3 linked regions of the Homo sapiens genome follow. The protein of the gene in region 2 interacts with the protein of the main gene of each other region in a pairwise test. Each region holds a gene or a part of one and is shown on either strand. Other genes may lie near its edges.

Region 1 (5,196 bases), on a different chromosome or scaffold from region 2:
GGTGAGTGGAAAGCATCCTGGTCCCCGATCAGGAGGGGCCGGGACAGAGACCCCTGCAGGTCCTGGAAGAGGCAGACTGAGATGTGGGGCAAAAGGAGATAGGACAAGTGTATGGGGTACCTTTCTTTGTCCCTGTCCCACTGGCAGGCACGGGGGGCATCTGCAATCTCTGTACCCTTGCCAGGTGTTCTCCCAGCATCCCTACGCGGAGAACTTCATCGGCAAGCCCCACGTGTGGACAGTCGACTACAACAACTCAGAGGAGTTTGAAGCAGCCATCAAGGCCATTATGAGAACTCAGGTGAGAGCAGCCACATACAGTTGAGACCCCCCACTAGTCCACACTGCTGGTCTTCACTCTGATTAGAAAACGGTGCCCCCCTCTGGGTGAGTTCAGACTTGCAGGCCTGGGTTGGCAAAGGTGTCCATCCCTCCCCTGGTCAGACACAGCCCTGAGCCAGGGCATGTGGATTGGAGAATGGAATGGGGGATCCCATTCATCTACTCAGGTGTGATGTGTGGGGAATGCCTTTGTGCAGTGAGCAACCTGCACAACCTTACATGGCAGCCCTGGATCTCAAATTGTTTATGGAGCACTTTTGAGGGCCAGGTGCTAACTGAATGTTTTCACGATGGATGTGTGGAGGTTCTTGAAACTGCTGCAGGTGTGGCTTTGCAGCCTTTACACAGCACATTTCAAAATATAATGTGCATACAGAGCGTCTGTTAATGCGGGGCAACGCTTCGAGTAGCAAGGGGGCAGAACACCCTGGGTCTCCAGCGAACGTGGGTGCTGGTGTGTGTAGGTGCACATGTGTGGGCTGGGTGAGAGTGAGGAGGGGCTTGTGCCTGATGCTCATCTCCGCAGTGGACATGTTTGTGGCTTTTGATCGTGCCTTGTGCTTGGCTGGTTCCTTCATTCTGGGGAGGCTCAGACCTGGTGAACGAGAGAGCCTCCTCTCACTATGGTTCTCCTGGATCCCCTTCTTGCTATAGCTCAGATGATAGGCTGAGCAAAAATAATTGCTCCAGGCCGGGAATGGTGGCTCCCGCCTGTAATCCAGCACTTTGGGAGGCCGAGGCGGGCAGCTCACTTGAGGCCAGGAGTTTGAGAGCAGCCTGGCCAACATGGCAGGTTTCTCAAAGTTAGGGACTGTCTGAGATTGGATTCCTCCAGGAAGTAACATGAAAACAGGGATTTTAGCAGTAGCTTATTTGGGAGGCAACCCCAGGAAGCAGGCACGGAGGTGCCAGGTGAGGCAGGGTGTGTATCAGCAGGTGGCACCTGGAGCTCATCACCACGGGGGCCTCTGCAAGATGGGGTAGGTCACATCCCAGAGCTGTCCTGCCCGAGGAGAAAGAGGCTAGGGTAGGTATCCTCCTCTTCCCATCCATCTGTGGCTGAGGGTGGTGCCTGGGATGCCAGTTCCTGACACTTTTGGCCTGCACACAGATGGGCTCGGCAGGCCAGAGACAGCCTTGAGGTGGAGTCACCGGTGACGGAGGGTGGGGCGCTGATGGCCCTGCTGCAGGGAGAGGTTGTGTGACCTTGTAATGCTGGATCCTAGCAAAGCACCGGCCTAGACAGAGTGGGGAGGGATAAAAAGCTCCCTTGCTAGCTCTCAACGCAGTGTTGTCCCCTGTCCTGGGCTGGTGGCTTAAGTTCTGGCAAGGCCTTGTAGAGCAAAAGCAACTAGAGGCCAGGAGCAGGGGCTCACACCTGTAATCCCTGCACTTTGGGAGGCCGAAGCGGGCGGATCACTTGAGGCCAGGAGTTTGAGAGCAGCCTGGCCAACATGGTGAAACCCCATCTCTACTAAAAATACAAAAAGAAATTTAGACAGGCGTGGTGGCACACGACTGTGATCCACCAAGAGGCTGAGGCAGGAGAATCGCTTGAACCTGGGAGGTGGAGGTTACAGTGAGCCGAGATCATGCCACTGCACTCCAGCCTCGGTGACAGAGCGAGACTCCATCTCAAAAAAATTTTAAAAAGATAAATAGGAACTTGGCCCCTTGGCCACGCCCTAGGAAGAGGGCCAGGTATTTGACTGGTACCAGCTTATAGGCTTAAATGGGGCTAGAAGTACCAGTGCCAGGAAGGAGGCCTTAGGTAGGGACCTCAGTGCATAGGAAAGAAGAGTGAAGGGGGTTAACTGATTAATTTCACTGCTGGAAACTGACCAACCCCAGCCCCCTGCACGGGGAAGCTGGCAACAAGGCGTACAGGTAGGCAAGGGGGCTCCTGTCACCCCACAGTCTCCTCCAGCTTCTTCTCCCACTTCTCCACCCACCTCCCTCTGCTCTCCTCCCTCTCCCCTCCCCTTGCAAACCAATCCTCTAAGACTTCTCCTGCAGAGGGGCTCGGGCAAGGCTGGGGAGGGGGACTACATAGACTTTTCCAATGTGGGGAGCAGCGTTTGGCCCAACCTCCAAGACACATTGTTAAGCTAAAAGAGCGAGACACTCCACCTTGGGGATAACTTGCCCCCCCGGGAGGCCCAGAAAGCGGGGTCGGGGGAGGGCTGTGTGCATGAAGGTGCTGCGATAGTCGCGGGTATTTCTGGTGGGACACACAAGAAATTGATAACTGGGGGAAGGACTGACTGTCTGCGGTGAGAGGAAACTTCCCTTTCATTGCTTTCCTGTTTGGTTTTTTTTTACATGAACATCTGTTTAATTTTGTTAATTAGTTAATTAAAAAATAACAATTACAAAAGGATTAAGGAAGCAAGGTATTGCAAATCTGACCAGCTGAGATTTGTGCTGGGCCCCAAACCAACGGAGGCCCCTCTGCCTTCAGACCCCTCCCTTCTGTGGGCCCCACCCCTCCGCATAACAGCTCACCCCCTCAGCTCACAGCAGCTCAAAAACATTTATGTGCCCAAGAGTCACCCGGGGGGAGGGCCTTAAATGCAGATCCTCGAGCCTATCCCGCACCTTCCCATTTAATAGGACCCAGCTTCGCGTGGGAATCTGCATTTTAAACAAGAACTCTGGGTAATTCTAATCTTCCCATTTTATTATTTTTTTAAAATTTTCTTTTTATATTATTTGAATAGAGATGGGGTGGGGTGGGGGGGGGGTCTCATTTTGTTGCCCAGGCCAGTCTCGAACTCCTGGGCACAAGCAATCCTCCCGCCTCGGCCTCCCAAAGAGCTGGGATTACAGGCATGAGCCACCATGCCCGGCCTAATAATTCTATTTTAGAAAACAGATTTAGGGACAGCTGGTGGAGGCTGAGAGCAAATGAGGGCTGCCATCATGGGGAGTGGCTTGTTCTGCAAGTCATGTGGCCTTTTACAGGGAGAGGGAGGGAGGAGCGGCCAGGATGGGGAGAAAGAGGTGAGAAGAAGAGGTGAGAAGAGGGAGGTCTAAGACACAGCGAGCCGGCCCCGGGCCTGACAGCCATGGAAAACCAGGGCCCGGCACCCCTTCTGTGTCTCTGCACCTCCCTGGGTTTGCCTGTGGACATCTCTGTGTCCAGAGCAAGGCCATTCAAGGTGATGCCAACACTGGCTTCCGCTGCACCCCTCCCTGCTGTCATTCCCGCAGGCCAGCAGTTCCCAGGCAGGATCAGCACCTGTCACTCTGTCGAGACTGATTAGGGCGCACACCTGTAATTAGACCTAATGGGGGTAATTTCCAGGCCAGGCAGGCTGGCTCCTCCGGCAGGAGATTCGTGGCAGGCGGAACGTCGTCGTCGTCGTTGGCCGTGAGTGTTTGCTTCACACAGGGACCTTTGAATTATCTTGTGACAAGGGCTTACAGACACAGGAGCAAGAGTAACTCAGAGATTTGCTGTCACGGAGCCGGGGAGCGGCATTTGGAGGGGAAAGCTCTTCTCTGGGGAGTTTTATTTATAACCTGAGAGTGAAGCCTTGTCCCCGCAAGACCCCCAGAAGTGTGTGGGGCTCAGAGGCTCCCAGGACTTCGTCATGAGTGTTTAGGGAACCAGCTGGGGCAGCAACTGGCTGCCAGGGTCTTCTTGGGCCATCGGCTCGGGAATGAGAGCAGGTCGGGACAGGGCTGTGCAGAGCACGGGGCTTCAAGGCTGGGCTGGGGATGGGACCTGCAGATTCTCCGGGACTTCGAACTTGCCCCAGCGTTGAGAATACCCACGCACAGTGCAGGGGGACGTCAGTGCTGGGGCAATGTCCGGCTTCAAGGACATCAGTGACTGCCGCTTCCCTGGGACCCTTGAGTGTCAGGGATGTCCCCTTGGCCAGAGGCCCCAGGACGAGTCTCCTAAGAAGTGGGGTACACAGAAGGCAGGACCGAGCTTGGCGCAGTTGGACTTTCTAGCACCACCCAACGCTGATGAGGAAGAAAGGAGGTGGTTGCAGGCTTGAGTCAAACAGTTAGATTTCACCCACTGGCTAAAGACGGGAAAGCGGCCTCATTAGGAGATGGGCTGGGCCAGGTCAGGTGCCACCAGGCATGGTGGGGTGGGGAGGTTGAAGCCTAAAACAGACCTTTCTCTGAGTCCGGGATGGCTCCTTCCTGAGTCCTGACTGCTGCCCCTGCCCTTTCAGGTCAGTGATTTTCTCCACGGTGGCTCTGCACTGGGCCTGAGAAGGTTAATGGAACAGGAAGGGGTTGGTTGGTTAAGAAGTCGGGGGGAGGCAGGAGTACCCCCTTACTCCTCTGTCACTCTTCCCTCCACTCCCCTGGTTTCTTTTACCCAAGCTACTGCATGCATCTGCCCACAGGACAGGTTGCTGTGTGACTATTAGATATTTATTTATTTATTTATTTTTGAGACAAAGTCTCACTCTGTTGCCCAGGCTGGAGTGCAATGGTGCAGTCTCAGCTCACTGCAACCTCCACCTCCCAGGTTCAAGTGATTCTCCTGCCTCAGCCTCCCAAGTAGCTGGGATTACAGGCACCTGCCACCACGCCTAGCTAATTTTTTTTGTATTAGTAGAGCCGGGTTTCACCACGTTGGCCAGGCTGGTCTTGAACTCCTGACCTCAGGCGATCCGCCCACCTCGGCCTCCCAAAGTGCTGGGATTACAGGCATGAGCCACCGTGCCGGGCTAACTATTAGATATTTAGACAGACAACCTGTGGCCTCTGTTTGGGGGTTTGTGCCTGTGGGGGCAGGGTACTTTACAAATGTCATCTCATTCCCGCTGACTGGGAGATGCCCCTGTGTTCCTCTGCATGAATGTCCCATGTCTTGGGCAGGATACA
Region 2 (5,196 bases):
GTATCTGGCTTCCCTGTCTCCATTCCAGCTCTCTGTCCTGGATTCTGGGCTGGTTGTGTGGCCTCTGCTGGAGCCTCCTGGCCCCCATGGTGGCTGCCTACTGTATCACCTTGCGCCTTGCCTATGTCTGGTGCCCGAGGCTGATGTCCACACAGGCCTGCGTGCCATCTGTCTGCATAATCCACTGGGGTGGAGCCCGGCTCTGTGGTCACTGTGTGTCCTCAGCATCCAGAATAGCCAATACATGTAGCAGGGGCGGAAGGAAACAGCAGGACAGCCAGAGGTCTTGGTCCTGGGGCTCCTTCCTGCCCAGAGGCTGCCCTGGCCACATCCTTAGCGGCCACCGGGGGTGAATGGAGAGGTCAGGGGTGTTGGGGGCTGGGATCCAGTTTCAGTTCCAGCATTCAGGGTGGACAGCGCTGGGCCCAGAAGACTTCAGAGGACCAGAGGAAGAGGTGGAGACAGCTGGTAGAGCTATGATCTATGACTAGTGCCCTACCTGGGGTGAGCCGTTCACCCTAGAGGGGCTCAGGACTGTCAGGGCCAGCTCAGGGCTCCCATAGCACTACCTTTCATTGGAGGAGGGGCCCAAGTAGGGTCTTGGCCAGGGACCGGGCTTGAGTCTGTATTTTGGCGCAGGAGGTCGGCAGGATTCCAGCTAAAGCACCCAGCTGCACTTGAAGCAGTTTGTCCTGTTTTTCTTTTATTTGCAGTTTCCCGAGACAGAACAAAATAAGAATAATTTTTGTACACTTACAAGGCTCAGAAAGAAAAGACAATGAAACTCAGCAAAAAGAGAGAGGAGGGGAGGCCAGCCAGCACCGTGGGCAGCCGACCCCTTGCAGCGCTGGCCAGCGGCCGCCACCACCACACCGCGGACACCTAGCTAGCAGACCGGTGTGGCTTGCTCTTTAGGGGTCATGCAAAAGAATTATCCCCCAGAAAAAAAATCCCCAAATTATCCCAGACAGGCAGCTCCGTGGAGGTGACAAGGTGAGAGGGAGAGGAGGGGAGGAGGCCCCAGGACGCCAGGGTGGCCGGCTGCTGGGCCACGTGCTGTCCGTGGTGAGCCCTGCCGCTGTCCCATGGCCCAGGGAGCCACTGGTGCGGAGCCCGGCAGATGTTTACCCTGTGTTCATGGATGGGGACAGCTGTCCTGGGCACAGCGTGGACGGAAGATGGTGTCCACTCTGAGTGTTCATCGGTGGACAGTCCCCTTGGAGTTTAGGATCCTGTGTCCTGTTCCCCATTCTGTGCCCCTCCCTTGGCTTGATTTGTAGGGGAAGATAAAGAAAATCCTTGTTGAAAACAATGTGAATTGAAAGTGGGCAGGCACTGGGGCAGGAGCCCCTGACCCTCTGCAGTCAGGGCTTGTGACCACCCCCACCCAACCTGGCTTCAGACCCACCCTGCAGCCCCACCATGCTCGGGCTTGCCCTGTCCCCGAGCTCCCCCATGGTACACACCATCACAAGGGGCCGGGGACCCACCGCCTCGAACCCAGGCAGCCGACGCTCAGGAGCACAGGGCTAGACCCTGCCCTCCATCCGCTGGTGTCCTGGGCCCTGTGCCCACCTGTTTCTGTCCCCAGCCCGCCTTATCTCCATAGCTGCATCCCTGGCCCACCTAGAAGGTGCCCTCACACGCACTGCAGCCCGCCAAGGCACTGGCACACCTGACACTGCACGGGCAGCACTGCCCTCACGCCTCCCATGTGCCCTAGGCTGGCTCCCACTGTAGCTTTTGCTCCCTTCTGCTCCCGGCCCAGATTCCAAAGGCACTCCCACTTCAGTAAACCCCTGCACAGACCCTTGTCTCAGCCCAGAAGCTGGGCAGCCACCACCTCTGATCCCGCTCTGCCACTAGCTGCACCACCCGACCAAACCCCAAGCCCCAGGCTTCCCCAAACCCCATCAGCAGACGAATATGCCCAGACACAAAGCCTGGCCTCCCCTCCCAGCTTCAGCTGGGGGCTCAGGGACTTGAGCGAGGCCCGCAGTCCTTTGTCAAAAGTCTGCTCCCCCTTGCGGGCTGCAGAGAAGCCGAACAGGCTGGGGGAGGGCCGAGGGGCGGAAACAGGGTTGGGAGCTGCCAGTGCATCTGCTGCTGGCCAGCAGAGAAGGGACAGACACCTCACACAGGAGGGGGGCCAGCCCAGGCAGAGTCCTCTTGCCACAGCTGGCTGTGTTGGAGCTGTAGCCAGCAGTGCTGTCTCTTGCTCGGCGAGAGGCCCAAAACTAAGCTGTGCCCCTCTTTGCACTTTACTCCCCCAGAAGGACCAGAGCTGGAGCCCTGGGTGTGTAGGGGCATCTCTGAAGGCCTTGGGGACGGGACTCCAGTTTCAATACTCCAGGGGGTGAGGGGCCGGCCTGGGCTCTGCCGAAGGGTTGTCCGTGCTGGGTGTGTGGGGATACCGGGCACGGAAAACCCACACCTAGCCCTTCAGGGGATGAAAGGAAGGGAAGGGAAAGCAGGAACAACAGCAACTCTCAGGCACAACTAGCGGGAAAGGAGGCAGCCCAGCGGGCCCCCACAGCCCCTCCCAAGAGACAGCTGACAGTCACGACAGCCAGCGAGCACACCACGTGGAGCCCATGCGTTGGCAGGAGGATGCAGACACCTTAGGTGTGGGGTGTGTGCGTTACCTACAAACTAACACCGTTCAGCACGCGACGGGGGCCTGGCAGACAAGTTCATGTCCCAGCTGGTCCCCCAGAGGCCAGGAGCACAGACGGACACACGTGGAGCTTGGGTGGGGAGTGGCCCCACGAATGCCAGTGATTTTTACAGCTTTTTCCTTCCTTTAGTTTTTTTTGTTTTTTTTTTTTTTCATTTCATCTGATGTCAATTTTTTTTGTGGTTGTCGTCGTCATCTTGTTTTTTTTTTTTTTTTTTTTGTTTTTTTTTAACAAATCACATCTGGTCTTGTTTTTCTGCAGACACAGGCACCAGGGGAGGGAACGAGGCAGACACAAACATGCGACAGGCAGGCCGTGTGCCCGAGGGCAGTCGGGCTCCAAACACCAACTCTGTCCGGCGAAACCAGGGCGCAGCTCTGAAATGGGGCGGGTGGGTCAGCTCCTCAGCAGCCCCCTCTCCCATCCACCCCCAGGCTCTGCTGTCTGCCATGCGGCACTGCAGAGAGGGTTAAAGTCCAGAAAAGGGCCCACTCGGGAGAGAGGTTCAAGGTGCCCAACCCAATTACTACTATCCCTGTAAAACTGGGCTCTGGGCCCGCTGCACCCACCACCTGGGGAACGCCCATCTGGGGCTCTAACAGTCCTCACAAACAGGGCATGGTGCCCAGGACTGTGCTGCCCGGGGCCCATCCACCTGCAACCCACCCAGCTCTGGCCAGTGTGGACTGCTCAGGCCCTCACCAGCTCCCCAGTCCTCTGGGGAGGCCTGCCACACCCAGCCTGCCGTGGTCCCTAATTTGACATCATTCCTGTGGCCTCACCAGGAAAGCTCAGGGACTTCCCAGGCATGGCTCTGCACAGGCCCCACCGCTCCCCATCGCCTCCCCAGGCTGCAGCCACTCACACCACCGCCACCCCTCTGCCCCAGCTGTCACTTAGCACAGAACACTCACCTTCACTGCAGCGGGGCCACAGGCGCGCCCGAGCAGTGGAAGTGCACGTTCTGCCACTTGCCGTCGCGGCGGTGCCACACGCGGGTCTCCTCAGACTGGCTGGTGCGGGGCCGGCCCTGCCCGTCAATGTACTGCGTGAGCCGGATGTAAGCGATGCAGGCGGCATCCTCTCCAATGACGTGCACGTGTGGGTTCAGGATGGTCGTGTGGATCGGCTTGCTGTTCTTGGCCAGCACTGTGGACAGCAGGCGGGGCGGGGGTCTCGGGTTACCATGACTGCCCTGGTGCCCGTCTTCCACCCCACCAGCCTAATCCTTTCCCTCTCTCAACTCCCCTTATTGGGGAGGCTCGGCTCTCCTGGGAGCAGCATGGGCCCCTCCAAGAGTGGGATTCTGGGGGCTGGGTATGGCCTCTGGCGGGGGAGAGGTGGCTGGCCAACCCTGGGCACAGAGGGGACAGGGCTTCCATAGGCAGCCACCATGCTGTCCCTGGGAGGGGCCGAGAGGCTCTCCTGGGGGCACCGCCCCCTCATGCCCACCCGGGCTTCCTCACTCACGGTTCTCGAAGTAGAATCTGTGGAAGTCCATCCCTTCAACCAGGTTGCCCAGTGCTTCAGGCTCAAACGAGGTCAGCCCTGGGTCACAGATTTTCCTGGGGGCCAAATCCAAGTGAGGAGGGGCCCCGTGGACCCCTGACTCTGAGCAGGCCCCCCCAAGGGTCCCACATCCTTGTCCTGCACAGCCCCCCCCCAGCCCCAGGGACTCACGCGTAGGCCTCAAAGTCACCGTTGTTGACGGCCTCGATGAGCTGCTCCGTGGTCTTAATGATCTCCTGCTTCCGGGCTGTGGGGAGACATGGCCAGGTGACCACTGGGCGCTGGCCCATTCCCCCCGGACCCCTCCACACAGCCCAGGGGAGGGCCTGGGGGAGCGCGAGCTGCATCCATGCCGTGTTCCTGCCGCTATTTGCAGAAGAGGTCCTCTCCGCCGCCCCCCCTGCATCACCAGTGGCTTCCTCATTTTCAAGTGCAACAGCTTCCATCTTATTTTTCTTAACTAAAGTATTTTTGAAGAACAGAAATATTCTATCCACATTACAAAATGCCTGGAAAATGCAGAAAGAGGACAAAAAACCCACCCACAATCCACTTGGAGGTCACCTCCTGGCCCCACGTGCTGTCCGCCACAGTCTCCCTCCTGCCCTCCCGTGAGCCAGCCCCTGGGCCCACCAGGCCTGGCCCTGCGCTTCCCTGCAGCTTCCCGGCCCCACTCTCCTCCCGAGCCTTGGGTTCTTAGTGCTTCCTTCACCCAGCAGCTCTGGTGAGGGGGCTACTGAGTGCAGGCACCAGGCGAGAAGGCAGAGACCTGCCTCAGAGAAGGAGCCGTCAGCAAGGCCACCCGGAGGCCGGGGAGGAGGAAGCAGCAGGGGGCGGCCACGTGCGGCGCAGGCTGCAGGGTTCCCCGGAGCGATGACCAGGGCTGTCCCCGCAGCAGGAAGAACGAGCGTGGTCTCTTGTTCCCCGCTTTTCTCATAGGAGCCGCATCCGGCTGGCTCCACCTGCTTGCAGTCCGGGGCCCACATGCTACCCCTGCAGACATCCCTGT
Region 3 (5,196 bases), on a different chromosome or scaffold from region 2:
GGTCCTCGTTAGCAGGATCCCCTGGAGCCTCTCATTTGTTAGAGATGGCATAATATCCATCTGTACTAGCAAGGTCTATAATTTGGTGCTGGCTGGGAAAGGTGGTGTGCAAGCAAAATGTCATTCATTATATGCAGAAATGTTCACAGAAATTCTGCTAGACTAGACTCAAATTCTAGATCTATAATAATTTGCAGCAGGCCTTAAAAGGGCCACTTTATCACTCTAAACCTCAGTTTCCTAATCTGTCTAATGGGAATAATTTCCGCCTTACGGACTACACTGTCAGTTTGAAGTTTGAATGAAATAGACGGTGGCCTCCAGGAGGGGCCCCTCTATCTGTTGTGCTGAGATTGACTCAGCCCTGGCTCAGCGATCCTCAGAAAAAAAGTGAAAATACAGGTTGAGTATCCCTAATCCAAGCCTCTAAAATCTGAAATGCTTCAAAATCCAGAACTTTTTGAATGCCAATATCATGCTCAAAGGAAATGCTAATTGGAGCATTTTGGATTTCAGATTTTTGGATTATAGATGCTCAATTGGTAAGTATAAGGCAAATATTCCAAAATAAAAAAAAAATCCCAAATCCAAAACACTTCTGGTGTTAAGCATTTTGGATAAGGGATACTTAACTTGCATCAACTCATTTCATAACTACAACACCACTTTAAGGTCCGTAGTTTTATTATCCCCATTATATGGGGATTAAGCACACGGCTTGGCACAGAATAGACACTCACCAAATATTTTTTGACAGATAACCCAATGATTGGTATGGAAATAAATAGCACATATTCATAAAGAGTTTTAGGAATGTAAGGCATTATCTAGCAGACGGAATAAACTTGGACCCAGGGGCCAGAAGACCTGCTGTTTTTGCCTATATGGCCTTGGGCAAGTCTCTCAACCTCTCTTCTATAAAATGAGGTGGTTCTTCAAGTTCTAAAAGTCTGATTTCTAAACAAAAACAACCAACATGGTCTTATTAATTTACAACATAATTAATTCAGAGTGGTGACTAAACTGGTCATGGTATAAACTAGTTTGTATTTGTTCATTCACAAAATAATAATAAAAAAGGTTTGTTAAGCAAATAAGATGGTAGAAATGTTAAGCCTATTTAAGATACATATGTTTTCAAGCAATTTAAAAAGCATAGAAGGAGCACATTGGCATATTAACGGGGTGTTAATTACAAAAGAATCTTTTAAAGCAGGTTTTCTAAAATCCCCACTGAGTAACCATTAGCTTGTGGTACTTGAAACACAAACTGTTCACATGTGTTACTTAGAAGTAATAAAATTGTAATTTAAAAGTAATCTGCCAACTTGTCACGAATTTAGACTGATTTTTCTCTCAATTGATCCAAATGAGTGAGGTTTTGCTATAATTATATATAATGCTGGTAATAATGAGGCTGATTATCAATCTTTCCCTGCTTTTCACTACCTCCATCATTACAGATTTTAGGGGAGGGGGGCGGGGGTGGAGGAAGATGGGAGGAGTGGGAGCGAGGGGAGGAGGGGGGTGGAGGAGAGGGAGAGAGGCAGGGATGCCACTCTCTCCCTCCCCCTTCCTTCAAGCACCGGAAGCAACCCCAGCTCCCACCCTGAGCAGCTCATCAGCCCTTCTCTGGGGGCTACATGAATCCAGGTGGAACTGCCCTGTGCGGCTTCGAAAGGCTAGCCAGCTGGTCCGAACTGGGGTTGCGTGAAGCATGCAGCAGCGTCAACCCATCAGCTAATGCATGCTTTCATTCTCACATTCCCACTGAGAGGCTGAGAGGCCTGAGCCTCTGGGGGCAGAAGGAGGGCCTCTTCTACATGCTCTCCACTCTCCAACACATTCCTTGATTTTTCCCCACTGAGGAAGCCAGAAAGGGCTTCCATAGCAGAGAAGGTTTCCTTCCCATCAGAAGAAAGCTTCTCTCTGCTCCCCATTCACTGGAAATTTAATGTCTAACATCTTGTTTTCTACATCGGTTAAAATGTAAAGCTTTGCACCAGTAAAACAGTTATAAAATACCTTCCCATTCCATCTCAGGGTGATTGTGCAGCCTAAATGTTTATAGGAAAGTCCCCTTGAATATGCTGATAATAATTCAAATATAAGAAATGCATATTAGCTAATCCCTGGTGTCTGAGTGGCTGTTATGTGGAAAGAGGAGGGAGAAGAAGATTAGGCTGGGCTGGGAGCCCTGAGGAAGGGAACCCAAACTAGGGGTTGAATTGTGAAGAGATAGAGTCAAGATGTGGAGTGTTCTAGTGAGAAAGGCCAGGGTCAAAATCCTGGGAGAGGCCAAGTATTGAATTGGGAAGGGGCAGGAAGGTCTGTGCTGGGTAACTGCTGTAAGAATTTACAGAGTAGTACAGTATAGTACATGGTAGAGCTGGGATTAAAATCCAGATCTGCTGCTTTTCCTCATATTCAAATGCCACTTTTATCATTTATTAGCCAAGTTCCCTTTGGCAAATTATTAATTTCTCTGTCCCCCAGTTTTTACATCTGTATAATGGGGGTAATAAAACTACCGACCTTAAAGTGGTGTTTTAGTTATGAAACGAGTTGATACAGGTTAAGTATCTCTTATCCAAAATGCTTAGCACCAGAAGTGTTTTGGATTTAGGATTTTTTTTTATTTTGGAATATTTGCATTATACTTACCAATTGAGCATCTATAATCCAGAAATCTGAAATCCAAAATGCTCCAACGAGCATTTCCTTTGAGCATCATTTTGGCATTCAAAAAGTTCTGGATTTTGAAGCATTTCAGATTTTAGATGCTTGGATTAGGGATACTCAACCTGTATTTTCACTTTTTTCTGAGGATCACTGAGCCAGGGCTGAGTCAATCTCATGAGAGCCACCAAAGCCCATGCATTCTAGAAAATTAACTTCATTCCCTGGGCCTCTGTGTCTTCTACTTTTAAAAAGAGGAGAAAACACCAGCTTCCTCTGGGAGCCCCTGGCACACCCGCGATCCAATGCTGGTGGCTAAGTTCTCTGCAGACCTAGAAGCTTCATAATGAGGGGAAGGAAGAGGTGGGGCATTTAGATTCTCTTTGCACAATTTCTTCCCCCAGTTGCTATTCAGCTCTCTATCTCTTGGTGAGATTGTAAATGTTTTAGAAAATAGTTTATACGAAATATGTTCCTTCCTAAATCTCATAAACAGTTACTCCTTTCCACATAAACCTTAACCACTTATGCCCATGATAGGTTCCAATTAGCCACCCACATATCTGTGGAGGGGAAAAATATGTTCTAGCATATACACACATGTGCACACGCACACATACAAGCAGGTCCAACTCAACCCCTTCTCTATGGCTATTTTCAAGTGAAAGCAACTATTCTACATGAATGGTCAGGGTCAGTTGGACAGGACTCTTGCAAATAAGTATGTACCCAAGGGAAGCCACCAATTAATTCTGCAGAGATCACCGTTGCTCTTAACCTATCCCATGGCTTATTCCTCAATGGCCAGTCCACTGGGTCTGCAACAACCAGTCAGTGCTGAGGCTGCATATCTGAGGTTGTATTGGAGCACCGGGAGCTCCCTGGGGGTGTGCTGCTGCCCCTGGCTTTGCAGAGCAACTGTGTCACTCACAGAAGCTGTGAGAGGCAGCTCAGCAGTGTGAACTCTGGGAGCTAGTCTGCCTGGGTTCAATCCCTGGCTGTGCCATTTTCTAGCTATAAGACCTTAAGCAAGTTATTTCACCTCTCAATTCCTCTGTTTCTTTGTCTCTAAAAGGAGTACGAGAACAATGGTAACAGTACCTACTCCTAGGGTTGTTATGAGGATTACATGAGCCGAGGCTGGTAAAGTGCTTACAATAGTAGCGAGCATTAGTGTTACAGTGTGTTTGTTAAATGAAATGAGAGAAGTCCTCTCTCTCCCTGATCTCCTTCTCACCCTGAGGATTACTGCACAATTGGATGGGGGGGATTACAGGCTTTGTTTTGCCATCTTCTAAGAGGCAGCAACTGTCTCATCCCAGAAAAACAAACCTATTACTGAGCAGCTGGCAAACCCTGGACTTGGCAGAGAAGGAGAAGAGAAGGTTTCTCTCATCATTACATGGTAGGGCCCAAAGCTGGGAGATTGGGCACCTTTGTGGAGCCACCACGTAGCCACCACACTTTGGCCAGTTTGAGCAATCTGTTGCTCACTGATCAGATGATGCTCTGACATCTGGTAAGCATGGTCCCAGACACAAATCTCAGGTGTTATTTCCAAAAGGTGACTTTGCTTCCCTGGAGATTCTTATACAAATCATGGGGCCCTCTGTAATTCCATGTGCTAATATGTAACAGGGCAGGGGGTTATACACCAAGTATTTTAATAAGTGCCGTGCAACTTGCTGCACTGTGGCAGGGGAGGTTAGAGGCCAAAGGTGACGTCCACTCTAATCCTGCTTTCCCCTGTGCCTGCTTGTGAGTCCTCTGTCCCTCTCCCTCATCACAGAAAGTTCTCAAACAGACCTCCCTGCAGACGGGGGCAGAGTCCTTTGGCTCAGCATTTAGGCCTCCTCTTAACTGGCACATGCCAACAAAATGGAAAACCTCAACAGAACTAAACAAAATAATTCTTCTCCTCCCTCAAGAATGACAAAGAAAAGTAGCTTTACAGGAGACATGTAGACAACCTACATGACCCTTTCCCCTCAAGTTCCCTATACTATACTGAACTATTTCCTTCCATAGCTGAACCATTGTGTTTACTTCTATCTGAAATCTAATTACGCTAAATATCAGAGCCCCCACAATTATGAAAATCTATGCCAGCAAAATATGAGGGTCTTTGTGGATTTAATTTTATTTTCCCAGATTCCTTATTTATTATTTTACAATAATGTCTGATTTTTAACTATTTTGCATGTTAGTCTCTGAGTAAAATAGAGGGGAAGAAAATATTGTATTAGGTAGCAAATATATGGACAACACTATAGCAGCTGTTTTTCACATGCTAACTCATTTAATTTTCACAATACTCTAAGGATGAGATTATAAATCCCATTTTAGAGAGAAAGGTGCTAAGGCTCAGAGAGGTTCACTAGCTTGCCTAAGGTCACACAGCTACTAGGTGAAAAATTGGGAACCAAACTCAGCACACTACCTCTTCCTGCCTCCTCTTCCTCCTGGTGCTCTTTTCACTATATTAAAGCAACAATATTATAAATTTGAGTAAGGGCT

What was found. Proteins that work in one complex are often made in the same cells at the same time.
Region 1: the proteins of CAMK2B (region 2) and MGAT5B interact in a two-hybrid assay, tested with the Homo sapiens proteins (one large-scale study listed by BioGRID).
Region 3: the proteins of CAMK2B (region 2) and RXRG interact in a two-hybrid assay, tested with the Homo sapiens proteins (one study listed by BioGRID).

Annotation. Positions count from the first base shown.
Region 1 is NC_000017.11:76,940,548-76,945,743, forward strand, and holds part of MGAT5B (alpha-1,6-mannosylglycoprotein 6-beta-N-acetylglucosaminyltransferase B), read left to right. Parts: coding exon 1-1; intron 2-184; coding exon 185-301; intron 302-3,555; coding exon of another isoform or gene 3,556-3,627; exon of another isoform or gene 3,628-4,710; intron 4,711-5,196. UniProt on the Homo sapiens protein: Glycosyltransferase that acts on alpha-linked mannose of N-glycans and O-mannosyl glycans.
Region 2 is NC_000007.14:44,216,468-44,221,663, forward strand, and holds the end of CAMK2B (calcium/calmodulin-dependent protein kinase type II subunit beta), read right to left. Parts: intron 4,435-5,196; coding exon 4,359-4,434; coding exon of another isoform or gene 4,355-4,358; intron 4,244-4,354; coding exon 4,149-4,243; intron 3,828-4,148; coding exon 3,595-3,827; 3' UTR 3,593-3,594; intron 3,056-3,592; 3' UTR 687-3,055; downstream 1-686. UniProt on the Homo sapiens protein: Calcium/calmodulin-dependent protein kinase that functions autonomously after Ca(2+)/calmodulin-binding and autophosphorylation, and is involved in dendritic spine and synapse formation, neuronal plasticity and regulation of sarcoplasmic reticulum Ca(2+) transport in skeletal muscle.
Region 3 is NC_000001.11:165,437,787-165,442,982, forward strand, and holds part of RXRG (retinoic acid receptor RXR-gamma), read right to left. Parts: intron 1-5,196. UniProt on the Homo sapiens protein: Receptor for retinoic acid. Retinoic acid receptors bind as heterodimers to their target response elements in response to their ligands, all-trans or 9-cis retinoic acid, and regulate gene expression in various biological processes.